Homo sapiens: one gene and its partner. The protein of the gene in region 2 interacts with the protein of the main gene of each other region in a pairwise test. Each region holds a gene or a part of one and is shown on either strand. Other genes may lie near its edges.

What was found. Proteins that work in one complex are often made in the same cells at the same time.
Region 1: the proteins of GPN2 (region 2) and GPN1 interact in binary tests that used the Homo sapiens proteins (3 or more experiments, as listed by UniProt).

Annotation. Positions count from the first base shown.
Region 1 is NC_000002.12:27,624,433-27,632,296, reverse strand, and holds the start of GPN1 (GPN-loop GTPase 1), read right to left. Parts: upstream 3,248-7,864; 5' UTR 3,239-3,247; coding exon 3,128-3,238; intron 2,923-3,127; coding exon of another isoform or gene 2,855-2,922; intron 2,439-2,854; coding exon 2,345-2,438; intron 1,271-2,344; coding exon 1,231-1,270; intron 464-1,230; coding exon 397-463; intron 1-396. Other genes in the region: CCDC121 (coiled-coil domain-containing protein 121), read left to right, coding at 3,534-3,901, 4,380-5,334. UniProt on the Homo sapiens protein: Small GTPase required for proper nuclear import of RNA polymerase II (RNAPII). May act at an RNAP assembly step prior to nuclear import.
Region 2 is NC_000001.11:26,875,239-26,880,837, forward strand, and holds the end of GPN2 (GPN-loop GTPase 2), read right to left. Parts: intron 4,512-5,599; coding exon 4,439-4,511; 3' UTR 894-4,438; downstream 1-893. UniProt on the Homo sapiens protein: Small GTPase required for proper localization of RNA polymerase II and III (RNAPII and RNAPIII). May act at an RNAP assembly step prior to nuclear import.

The DNA.
Region 1 (7,864 bases), on a different chromosome or scaffold from region 2:
ACTCTTATGGAAGTAGGTGACAAAGAAAACCTAAAGAATGACAAATATTTATCACAAGTAAAATGCCCCATCATCTTTCCATTCCATGACTGCTAGTCCATCCCACTCCCAAATACCCCCATCCCAGCTTCGGGGTAATACCACAGGCAAAGAACAGGTCAAGAAAATAACCCAGGTCTTTTGGATTTTTATTAGCTGTCACAAATATTAAATTTGAAGTGTCTGACCATACTGATCACCTTCTCATAGTCTACTTCTCTGTCTGACAAAATGCCTACTTATTTTCTATATTTATGCTCAGGTTTGCTGCTCTTCTTTACCAATGTGATCAAGCTAAGGAATTTAAGAGTCACAGATTTTTACACAACCATATTAATATACTAAAGACAGATATACCTGATCAAATCTGGTAGCAAAGAGATTGAGTGAGGTCACTATGCCGCCATTGGGTCCAAGTCCATATCTAGACACCAAGTTGAGGACTGAAATCGCTTATAGATTAGATTATAAAGTTCATACCTAGGCTATCATTCACACAAACGGCATTATGAAATTAGTGTTCCATTAATGGATACTGGCAACCTAATCCTTGACTACCATACAAACTTAACCACACAGGGAAACAGTCATTATCAAGGTCTGGCTCACTCATTTGATTTAAGGAGTGGTCAGGCAAAATGAAGAAAGCAAAGTGACCAAAATGTAATACAGGTGCATCAGGCAGTGACAGCCCACTGGCATTGGTCATTAAGGCCACCTGTATAACACCTCCGGCTCTGATCCTCATAAATAAACCAAGCAATCTGCTGATTATGATTAGTCTTCCTACTTAGACTTGCCTACGGAGAGAGTACACATTTCATACAGCAATTTACTAAGAGTTAATCCAACTAAACTCACTCATTTCTGAGTTTCCCAGTCTAAAGAGGTGGTGACCAACAGATGATCCTCCAAGGCAAAATACTACCTTGTGGGACCCAGGTAGCTGTCAGTTATCCTATCATACTCTCTGCTCTTTAATTACAACAGCCTGCCATCTGGGGAGATGGTAAGAAAACTAAAATCTCAAGCTGAAATAGTATTTCTGATCACCTACCTCTCCCACAATCAGCTTCCATCCTTTTGCTTGTATATTTCACAAGGAAAAGGCAAAAACACTCTTTCAAGCCACAAAATACACAGACAAGAAGCCAGGAATGAGTCAAGACCAAAGTAGATGGAAAAGGATACTGTTTCATTACTTCTTTATACTTTACAGTATCACGAATATCTGAGGAGAAAAAAAAGAATTAACTGGAATGTAATACATACACATTCCCTACCACCAGGAAAGTAAAACTGGCCTTCTAGCCTTCTCCTGTCAGCATTCTCTTCTACCACCTCCACTTTCACACTGGTTTCCTTCCTTACAAAGAATAAATGCCAAGTAAATCATGAAGAATGTTAGGGCTAGGAGCTCTAAAGTTGTGGCAAAGAGTTTTGTCTCCACAAAGTGCAAAGTTTCATGCAACTTAAACATGCCTAGAAAAAGGGAGGCAAAAATCAAGGGGGAAAAAATGCTTCTTACTAATTGCCTATTACTGACAAAGGCAACACAATGGCAATGCAGACATGATTTTTTAAAAGGAGTTAGGCTGGGCACAGTGGCTCACACCTATAATCCCAGCACTTTGGGAGGCCAAGGCAGGAGGATTACTTGAGCCCAGGAGTTCAAGACCAGCCTGGGCAACATAGAGAGGCCTTGTCTCTCCAAACAAAACAAAACTAGCCCAGCATAGCGGCAGGAGGCTGAGGTGGGAGGATCACTTGAGCCTGGGATGTTGAGGCTGCAGTGACCTGTGAATCACGCCACTGCACTCTGGCCTGGGTGACAGAGACTCTGTCTAAAAAAAAAAAAAAAAAAAAAAAAACCTAAGCTGTTTAGGAATGCAAGCAAATCCAAAGGAAATGAAAGTAGATAGTTTAGAAAACATGAAAAAAGAAGGCACTGAAGACTGGCAGGCTGGAGGCTTTACAGAGTCTCACTCTATTGACCAGGCTGGAGTGCAGTGGCACGATCTTGGCTCACTGCAACCTCTGCCACCCGGGTTCAAGCAACTCTCCTGCCTCAGCCTCCCGAGTAGCTGGAATTACAGGTGCCTGCCACCGTGCCTGGCTAATTTTTTGTATTTTTAGTAGAGATGGAGTTTCACCATCTTGGCCAGGCTGGTCTTGAACTCCTGACCTCGTGATCTACCTGCCTCGGCCTCCCAAAGTGCTGAGATTACAGCCGTGAGCCACCACGCCTGGCCTTTTCCATTCTCTTTAAAGCACTGCACACAAGTTATGTTACTGGTTTACTCACCAATATTGGCAGGAAAGGGAACTTCATGTACTGCTGGATCCAGGTTGATCACATACGGTGGAGTGCCTTGGGCATGCAGGTGTCCTGTGAGCCTCTGCAGAGATATGGGGAGAGGGTTGGAAGGAGACAAAGAGGGGACAAGAGAGAACTTCCATTCCTTTAACACCCATGCCTTAAGAATATTGCACTTAGATTTTCTTCTACCTGAAATATCCACCATGTCCACCTCCAAGATACAACTCTCAGTTCAAATGCTACCTTTCTTCATCACCCATCTAACAAAGCTTCCCCTACTCGTAGTCACTTGTTTACTTGTTTTGATTCTTCGTATGTGGGTTTTCTCTATCTCCTCCATTAAATATTTGGCCCCACGAATGAATCTTGTCAACCTCATTTTCGCTATATCCCCAGTGAATGGAACATGACAGGCGTGCAAGAAATATTTGGCAAATCTTCACCAAAACCTGTGTGCTAGCACTGTATTAATCTTTAAAGTTACTTGTAACTTGCCTCCGAGAAACGCAATTTTATCAGCAAGACAATTCCTGTACAACGTGGTAAGCTGGACCGAGTATGCCCTGAAGGTGCGCAGAAGAGAGCCTTAATTAACCTGGCTAGGGCCCGAGGAGGCTTTGCCGGGGAAGGAACTAAAGTTGATGGGAAGCCCCCGAAAGCCATGCGCCGGTACCCTCCAAATCCTCTTCCCTCCCTTTCTTCCTGGCCTTCCGCCTGCCGGAGGCAACCTTTTGCGCTCCCCTACTACACCCATGCTGTGTACGTCACCTGTACAAAAGTGGTTTTCCCGGATCCCGCCATTCCCAACACCAACAGACACACTGGGTGCCGCGGACCCCCAGAAGCCTGGAGCTCAGCGGCAGCTGCGGACGCCGCCATCTTCCTCCTGGCCCCACCCACCCGACCATAGAGACACCGCATGGGTAGAGAAACTTCCGCAATGTTCTGGGCTGCGAACGAAAACCACCACAGCGTCAGAAAGGAGCGGGTGAGGGGCGCGGCGGTTGCCAGGGCATCTTCTTAGCGTCGGGCAGGGCTGATGAGTCAACTAGTGACAGTGGCGAGGAAGTGGGGGCGCTGAGCAAGCGAGAGGAAGGCTGAAGGGAGCTAGGAAAAGGGCGCTGATCTCTGCAGCCTGGGAGGGCTTTTGTCTCCCGGAGGAAGGCCAGAAGAGATGGGGTCCCGAGGGCAGGGCTCACACAGCAAGAAAACGAGGAGCATGCCTGTCATTTTGAGCCCACAGAGAACGGGGAGCGGAGCCACTGGAGGACCGGCTGCTCGGGCTTATTCGGTAGCCGAGGCGGTTAAACAGTTCAGGGCTGGACCAGCCGGGACTGGAGCAGGGTGCAGTCTCCAGGGTTGCTGGGCAGCACCGAGACCCTTTGAGCACCGAACGAATAAACTACGGGAGCTTTCCACACTTGCACATTGTTCCCGCGAGTTGCAGACGCAGGTTCCTGATGCTAGCGCTCATTCCTTGGCAGTCACCCTCAGTGAACTACACAGTTGCCGTGACCTTCAGGATGAATGCTTGGATTCCAGGTGCAAGTAGGTACTGGAGGGGAGCTTCCTCCCCTCCAGTCACTGAAGGTCCCTCAGAAACTCAGGAAAGATGATGAAAGAGCCTAGAAAATTATTTCTACTCCTGACCACCCAGTCTGTTTCTGTGACCCTTTGTAGCTGCAAACAGTGTTCAGTAAGTCATAAGATCTGGCTTTAATACCCAGGCTCTGCCACTTGCTAGTGGTGTGAGTCATGGGCAAGTCACTTAAACTCTCTGAACCTGTTTTCTCCTTTTTTAAAACTGAGGTAATACCTCCCAGGGTTGTAGTGAATGCACGTTGTAAATGACGAGCTACATTCCTCATCCTTTACCACTAGCTGGATTCCCCACACCTTGCATAATGTCTGGAACATTCTGGTGCTCAGAAATATTCTCTTGTATGAATGAAGGACAGTTGTGCACTTACTTCCTAAAGTTTCATTAACTGACAGAGGAATGTCTCGTTTGTTCTTTCAGGTTTGCTGAGGGCCCCAGAAGGCTCCTTCCACCGTATCATAGTCTAATAAATAATTTTGTCAAGCCAGAGAAGCTAACAAAGGTAGAGACAAGGCTTAAAGAAAAGATAGTGGCGGAAATGACGGATCTGAACAAGCATATAAAACAAGCTCAAACCCAGCGGAAACAGCTACTGGAGGAATCCAGGGAGCTACACCGAGAAAAGTTACTTGTCCAGGCTGAAAACAGATTCTTTCTGGAATACCTGACTAACAAAACTGAAGAGTACACAGAGCAACCTGAGAAGGTATGGAACAGCTATTTACAAAAAAGTGGAGAGATTGAACGAAGAAGACAAGAATCAGCCTCCAGATATGCAGAACAAATTTCAGTGCTTAAAACAGCGCTCTTGCAAAAGGAAAATATCCAATCCAGTTTGAAGCGGAAGTTGCAGGCAATGAGGGACATTGCTATATTAAAGGAAAAGCAGGAGAAAGAAATACAGACATTACAGGAGGAGACAAAGAAAGTCCAAGCTGAGACAGCTTCAAAGACACGGGAAGTACAGGCCCAGCTCCTCCAGGAGAAAAGATTACTGGAGAAACAACTGAGCGAGCCAGACAGGAGGCTACTGGGAAAGAGAAAAAGAAGAGAGCTTAATATGAAGGCCCAGGCCTTGAAGTTGGCAGCAAAGCGGTTTATTTTTGAATACTCCTGTGGCATCAACAGAGAGAACCAGCAGTTCAAGAAGGAATTACTGCAGCTAATTGAGCAAGCCCAGAAACTAACGGCTACTCAAAGCCACTTAGAAAACAGGAAGCAGCAGCTGCAGCAGGAACAGTGGTATCTGGAGTCCTTAATCCAGGCGAGGCAGAGACTGCAAGGAAGTCATAATCAGTGCCTAAATAGACAGGATGTTCCAAAGACCACACCCAGTCTTCCCCAAGGCACCAAATCAAGGATTAATCCAAAGTAACTTCTAAAATAACACTGATTAAATAAGAACTGGAGCAAGTACTCTTAAGTGCTACATTAACCTGGTTAGAAAGGCTGTTGGATTCCAGATTGCTATTGTAAAATCTCCATCATGATGTGTTGGAGTGAAGGATTAGATGGTTTTATCCAACAGTCCTACTAGATATTTGGTAACCAGCTTCCCTTAACTAGCTTTTTCTTTAAATACTCGTTAATAAGCTATTCCACAAACCTCCAGTTAACCTAACACATGACCCTAACCTAGCCATTTACCATACATCAAACTAGCTAAAGGAAACCAACCTAAGGAAGTGAAAACAGTTGTGATTTATTTCATCTAGCTAAATTGTATTTCTTTATAGAGAAAGTACCTTTAAGGATAGCATTCCAAATAGACTTTGAATAGCGTTCTGCCAGTTTATCCTCATTCCTTTTGACCAACTTAGCAGACAAAAGCAGTTTTTACAAGCTCTTTGTGAGTTTGTGCCAGTGACCAGGTAGCTCCTTCTAGTTTTCTCATGAGTGAAAAAGCATTCTGATAACAGCAAGTCCAGTAAGTGCTAGGCAGAGTGACCTTTCATCTGATGCTAAGCCCCTACAAGTTTGAGAAGGTAAGAAAAGATGAAGGAGACATATATTAGGTCAGCTCTTACTTTTGAAAATGTTTTATTTGAAGAAACACCTGTAGCATTGAGGTGACTGAATGCCTCCACTTATTTCAGGAAAACGTATCCAAAAAAAGTTGAAATATTTGGACAACTTTTTTTTTAAGTGCCATCGATTTCCCTAGCAGCATTCTAAAAGATAGCAAGTAAAATGATGTTTGTTATCCTAAATGCTTTAGTTTTAGGTCATTTATTAATTTTCTTACAGGTGCACTTTCTAGTACATGAAGTATCCTTTGTAATTAATGTGTGCCATATGTTTATTCCCATTTAGTATAACTATAAATTATATTTTAAATTATATATTTTTAGGATAGTTATATTTTTTTTGGGTTCTACGACATTGAAGTTGGACTAGTGATTTATTTGAATGCTGAATCCTAGTATAGGGGAATATAATCTTATATTTTAACAGGGGTCCTCTATGGGAAAATAGGATGAACTTTGTTTCCCAGAAATTGTTAAGTGATGAAAAACTTCAAAATAATTTTCCTGCATTTTCTGCTTTATTTACATGTAAAGTGAATTCCCTGAAAATTGGATTTAAAAAGCATTCTCCTTCAATGTGCCTTTACCTTGTAGCTTTAACAACTTTTCTGTTAAATATGTAGTTTTTTATTAAACAATGTTATTAAATAAAAACATTTATCCACTGATTTTATTACTGTTCCAATGTAACACATTTTCTACTTCATCACTCTTCTGTTACCACTCTTAAATGTCTTATTCACATGTGCAAATAATAAAAACTAGTTTTAATGCAGAAATTAGGATTTTAGCATACAGGTACTTTAACCTAAATCTCAATTTGTGAGCTGAAAATACAGAAACACTGAACAAGGAAAGCATGGTATCCAAGACAAACTTGAAGGCTTAGTCTCTGTGGACGTAAAAACCCTAAGACAATGTATTTCTAAGGCTGATAAAAAGTTGGAAAGTAGGAAGCATATTAGTTCTGTTAATTCCCCTCCTGCCACTGGTGTCCCAATTATCTAATTCAAGAGTGGGTAACTTCCACCTGATCTCAGTTCATTTTTACTTATCATCCCAGGTAATGGATATGGTATACTGCTTGTGGCTGTCCCTTCCAGAGTGAGGGCTTGAAGACATTAAAAGTTGAATGATAACTGATTTCATACCTTGAAATCCATACCTCTAAGTAAGCAGCAAGTTGGCCAACTAAGATTTCAATCTGCATTTTGTCTGCTTTGCTATTTAGAAAATTACACAGGGTTATGTTACAGAAAGTGAGTTTAGATGGAAAAGACCTCTGAGGTGAAATTTAAGACCTATGATTGCTAAAATGAAGCCTACAATGCAAAAACTGGGGAAGAAACTATTCTAGGCAGAGGCAACAGTGAATGCAAATGCCTTAAGATGGCAATAAGCTTGGTAGGTTCAAGGAACAGAAAGGTGTGTATGTAAAGTATAGTTGAGGAATGGTCACAGAACATGAGTGGAGGAAAGGAAGATGAGGCTATTAAGGCTAGCAGGAGTTTAGGCACCGAGGGCCTTTAGCAGGTGAATGAGGTCTGATTTACCTAATTTTAAAAACTACAACTGTTATGTGGAGTGTATCCAAGCCAGAAAAAAGTGGAAGGAAACCAATTACGAAGATACTGTAGTCTAGGCAAGAGGTAATGATGGCTTAGATTGGAATGGCAGAAGTAGAGTGAACAGATTCAAAATGTAGTTGGTGGTAGGCAGGACTTGCTAATGGATTTGCTATAAGAAGAGAGAGATGAAGCAAGAGTAAATTTCTAAAATGTTCTCTTTTAAGGAGATGTGCAGAATATTCTTTGTATTTTTTTAGACGGTCTCACTGTGTCACGCAGGCTGGAGTGCAGTAGTGTGATCACAGCTCAT
Region 2 (5,599 bases):
GCTCTGTGGGCTTTAGGGCCTCACCCTCATGCCTAAGCCTCTTTGTCAGGCTGGAAACCTTTCCAATTACCTGTGGTCCCTGCTAAGTTCTTCCAATTCTACACTGTCTTCTAATTGTTGAGGTTCCCAGTTCAGAGCCAAGAAATGCATATAACCTAATGTCAGTGGTTAGTAGGGATGACCAGGAAGGTCCCTTCTAAGACACTCAGAGAGGGCTTCCTCCCTCCCGAAGTTGTAGAGAATTGTCAAGGGAGGTCTGGAGATGAGAAGAGCAATTTCAGACACTATCAGTGAGATGTAAAGTGGCACATTTTTTGGAAAGCATTTTGGCAACATGAATCCAGAACCTGGAATATGTCAGTTATTTCATTTCCAGGACTACCTCCCAAGTTAAAAATCAGAGACTCAGACAATGATTTGGGTACGAGGATATTAATCACACTATTTACAAAAGTAAAAGTTGGTGATGACTTGTAGGCTAGTAGTAGGCTAACCACGGGAGTATGGATAGGTAAACAATGTTATAGCCAAACCATGGACTATTACCAAAGTGACATTAAAAAGGTTATTTACTTGATTGTTTGAGACAGGGTCTCACTCTGTTGCCCAAGCTAGAGTGCAGTGACACAATCATAGTTCACTGCAGCCTCCACCTCCTGGCTCAAGTGATCCTCCCACTTCAGCCTCCCAGAGTCCTAGAATTACAGGAATTGTATCTATTTTTTATTACATGGAATGGTGTTAACTGAAAAAGGCAGGATACAACACAATTATAAAATATCCCACTTATATAAATGCAATATCCACCCCAGGTATAAAAATAAGGCTGAAAGAATACATAAAATATCTCCAGGTATTTACAGAGATGAGAAAAAAAGAGAATACACAAAATATACATTTGAATATAGAATTTATTTTTCTCTTAAACAGATGACCCCATAGAAAGTTTCCGTTATGGGATTCTGGGTGACTCATTTTCGTTTTTTTTTTTTTTGAGATGTACTTTCCATCTTGTTACCCAGGCTGGAGTGCAATGGCGCGATCTCCGCTCACTGAAACTTCCGCCTCCCAGGTTCAAGCGATTCTCCTGCCTCAGTCTCCTAAGTAGCTGGAATTACAGGCGCATGCCACCATGCCCTGCTCATTTTTTTGTATTTTTAGCAGAGACAGGTTTTCACCATGTTGGTCAGGCTTGTCTTACACTCCTGACCTCAGGTGATCAGCCCGCCTTGGCCTCCCAAAGTGCTGGGATTACAGGCGTGAGCCACCGTGCTCGGCCTTCTCTTTCATTTTCTAAGTTTTTTACTTTCCTATATTTATTAGGAAATTTAAAAATAATCTTAAGGATGACTGCCACATGCCAGCCATAATGGAGGATGGTCTTTCTTCTACCCTAGACATTTCACACTGAACAGGCCTCACTTGGATCTCGGACATCTTCCTTTCTGCACTGTGCAGATCCCCTCAGTATATGCAGAGAACAGAAAATCATTTTGCTGCCAGTGGAAGGTAGACAGAAGCTACGTTTATTGGGGAAGAAAATACCCTTGCTGTCAAACCATGGCCTGAAAATAAAGGCCTTGGATTACTCCCACCCATCTCCACTCCATGGGTGCAGAGAATGCTGAGGGTGCTTGCATACGAGACCATAAAGTTGTAAAGGATGCCTTCCAGCCCCCATTTGGTTTGTTATGGTGAGAGCTGGGGCCTCTGTGAGTGGCAAGCATCAAAACCCACGACCACAGCCGTTGGTACTGCTTTCAAAAGCATAGCACCCACCCTAATGCCCTGATAAAGGATTTGTCCAGTAGCCTGGGCGTCAGGATTCCTGGGCTCTAGGCCCCACAGGTGATTCACAGCTAGCCCCAGGCTGTGCCTCCTGGCCTCAGTTTTCCTGGCTTGCTCTATTGGTACTTCCTACCTACTCTGTGGGGTGTTAATAGGGGTGAGGTGCTTTGAACTTCTCAGATGAAAGAGGCTGGGAAGCAGCACCCAGTTATTATCCCCTTTACAGCCAGGCGTGGGAGCTGAGGTTGCTTTCATACTGTTCCAGCCACAGTAGCCTCCTCATAGCCCCTCATTCATCTGCCTTTGGCTCTGGCTGCCACAACCAGAAAGCAAAGCAGTCAGTCCTATTTCAATGCTGTTTCAGAACAGATGTCCCTAAATTAATTTGCCAACTGCCCAAACCACTGGTGAACTATCTATGATTCAGTAATACTTTACAGGTGCCTAATTTCTTTCTCCTGATTGGCTGCAAAACCTGTGGGACAAGGGCTGTGACTTCTCACCAATAAATATACCAAAGGAGGGATACTCGCAATTTAGTCAGCAAAATGGGTTATGAGAAAGCCAGGCTGACCAAAGTTCAAACTTCTCATCTTTCTGCTTCCTCACTGTAACACGGGCAATGGCTTATTAATTCTCCCCATCCTGTCTATCTCTAATGAGGATTGTGTGTGTGGAAGCACTCTAAAATACCAAGCACTTCATATGTGTTAATAAGTCCAAATGTGGCCGGGTGCAGTGGCTCACGCCTGTAATCCCAGCACTTTGGGAGGCCAAGGCGGGTAAATCATGAGGTCAGTAGTTCAAGACCAGCCTGAACAACATGGTGAAACCCCGTCTTTACTAAAAATACAAAAATTAGCCGGGCATGTGGTAGGCGCCTGTAATCCCAGCTACTCGGGAGGCTGAGGCAGAGAATTGCTTGAACCTGGGAGGCGGAGGTTGCAGTGAGCCGAGATTGTGCCACTGGACTCCAGCCTGGGCGACAGAGAGAGACTTTGTCTCCAAAAAAAGAAAGTCCAAATACATGCAAATAAAACTTGGCATAACAGTCTTGCCCAAGCCATCAGTCCTGCCCCTTCTGCCACCAGGTTACAACTGCAAAAAATTAGGTTGGGGTGCCACCTACTGGTTGAAAAATATATGAACTGCATCCAGCCAGTTGCAAGAGCAAAGAAAAAACTTCCAAGCCCTCTTGATTTTTGCCACACTCTCATAGGAACTGCCATATTATATAATTAATATTTTTCTTTACACAACTTACTATTTTTTTTTGAGACAGAGTCTTGCTCTGTCGCCCAGGTTGGAATGTAGGCACAATCTTGGCTCACTGCAACCTCCGCCTCCTGGGTTCAAGCAATTCTTCTGCCTCAGCCTCCCCAATAGCTGGGATTATAGGCGTGCAACACCATGCCCAGCTAATTTTTATGTTTTTAGTAGAGAGGGGTTTCACCATGTTGGCCAGGCTGGTCTCGAACTCCTGACCTCAGGTGATCCGCCCGCCTCAGCCTCCCAAAGTGCTGGGCTTACAGGCATGAGTGAACACGCCCAGCCTTGTATTTCATTTTTGAAGTACACCTTTTTTTTGAGACAAAGTCTCGCTCTGTCACCAGGCTGGAGTGCAGTGGTGCAATCTCAGCTCACTGTAACCTCTGACTCCTGGGTTCAAATGATTCTCCTGCCTCAGCCTCCCAAGTAGCTGGAACTACAGGTACGCGCCACCTATGCCCAGCTAATTAAAAAAATTTTTTGGTAGAGATGGGGTTTCACCATGTTGGCCAGGATGGTCTCGATCTCTTGACCTTGGGATCCGCCTGCCTCGGCCTCCCAAAGTGCTGGGATTACAGGCGTGAGCCACCGCACCCAGCCTTGAAGTAAACTTTTAACCACTACTGTAAATGGAAAACTAGTTAACACTTGTCAACAATAGAATAAAACCATAAAACAAATACAGTGAATATAAAACATTAACAAAGTTCTAGTTAGGAAGTGTTGCCTGTGAAAGCTGAAGCTTGAGGCTCTGTTAAAACTGAAAATTGTGGGACATGGTGGCTCACACCTGTAGTCCCAGTTACTCAGGCGTCTGAGGCGGGAAGATCACATGAGCCCAGGAGTTTGAGTCCAGCCTGGGCCATATAGCAAGACCCCATCTTTTAAAAAACAAACCTCAGAACCAAAAACTGAAGATTAATAAAAACACATGACTGGAGACTGAATGTAAATCCTATGTGACTGAATGTGAATTATATGCTTTGGGGAAATACTGATTATTCCAAGGCTAGGTGACACTCCCTCATTCTTCCCCAAACCCCTGGGCCCGGAAGACTGAAGAAAAGTTTGGAAGTCACAAAAAGTAGAAAATAAACTCTTGTATTGTAGCACATTTCATCACAGCCTGACTAGGACCAGTGCTCGACTTTCTGGTGGCAGGGCCCAGAGCTCACGGACACCACTGACAGTATGGGGGGTGTTCTGCTTGGCACCATGTCTGGCTTTTTGGCCAGAAGTCCTTTGCAGAGCTGAATATCCCCTTGCCAGCCCGCCAGCTCTGGCTGGGAGGACTTGCTCTTGGGTCTGCAGCCTGCATCAGGAGCCTCCACTTTCCCCAGTGCTGGATTATGCATCCTGCTCTCCAGGGTCCACCTTGTTGCTACAGCTGCATGGCTTCCTGCTCCACTGACTGGTTCGAGGGTGCCAGGTACTTCTCCTGGATGCCCAGTGTGCTGAGGAAGGGTGCGTCAAGGCTGATAGCATAGGCAGAGGATGGGGAGCTGGTCTGGGCAGGATCTGACTTCCGCTGATGCCTACACTCCAACCATGTCCATCCCTCTCTTCCTCATAATTATAGGGACCAATCAGGTATGAGAAGCCTCCAAAAACACCCAGACTCAAATGCTCCTCTATCTGCCTCTTCCACACACTGCTGCGGATCAAAGGACTGGACAGTACTAACCTTGCAATTTTGCGTTATGGCACATGCTCTGGAGCCAGACTAAGGGAGTTCAAAACCTGATGATGTCTGGGTCTGGGGTCTGACGAGGACATGGAGGTTAGCCATGGCTAGGTTGGCTATGTTAGGACACCATGGCTGTTGTACTACCAGATGGCTCCAAAGTAAGAAACAGATTCTACACCCACCAAAACCAAGGTTTGAACTGTTCTTCCAAAACATCCCGGGAGAGGGACCTTGGGCCTGTCGCCTCAATTATAAAAGGGGTTGAAATGAGGATTAAATGACCCTGCAAGTAAAGCACTTAGCCCACCAAATGATGTTCGAGTTACAGACCTTTCTTTTTCTTTTTTTTGAGACAGAGTCTCACTCTGTCACCAAGCTGGAGTGCAGTGGCGCGATCTCGGCTCACCGCAACCTCCAACTCCCTGGTTCAAGCAATTCTCCTGCCTCAGCCTCCAGAGTAGCTGGGACTACAGGTACATGCCAGCACACCCAGCTAATTTTTCTATTTTTAGTAGAGACAGGGTTTCACCATGTTGACAGAAATGGTCTCGATCTCCTGACCTCGTGATCCGCCCGCCTTGGCCTCCCAAAGTGCTGGGATTACAGGCGTAAGCCACCACGCCTGGCCAAAAATAAATTTTTATACTTTAAAAAAAAAAAAGAGAGAGAGATGGGGTCTCACTATGTTACCCAGTCTGGTCTCAAACTCCTGGCCTTGAGCAATCCTCCCACCTTTAACTCCCAAAGTGTTGGAATTACAGGCATGAAGCCATTACACTTGGCCCATGCCATCTTATTTGCAACCCTTGAAACCTGTCTCAACTTTGAACCCCTATGCCTTTGCATGTTCTCTTA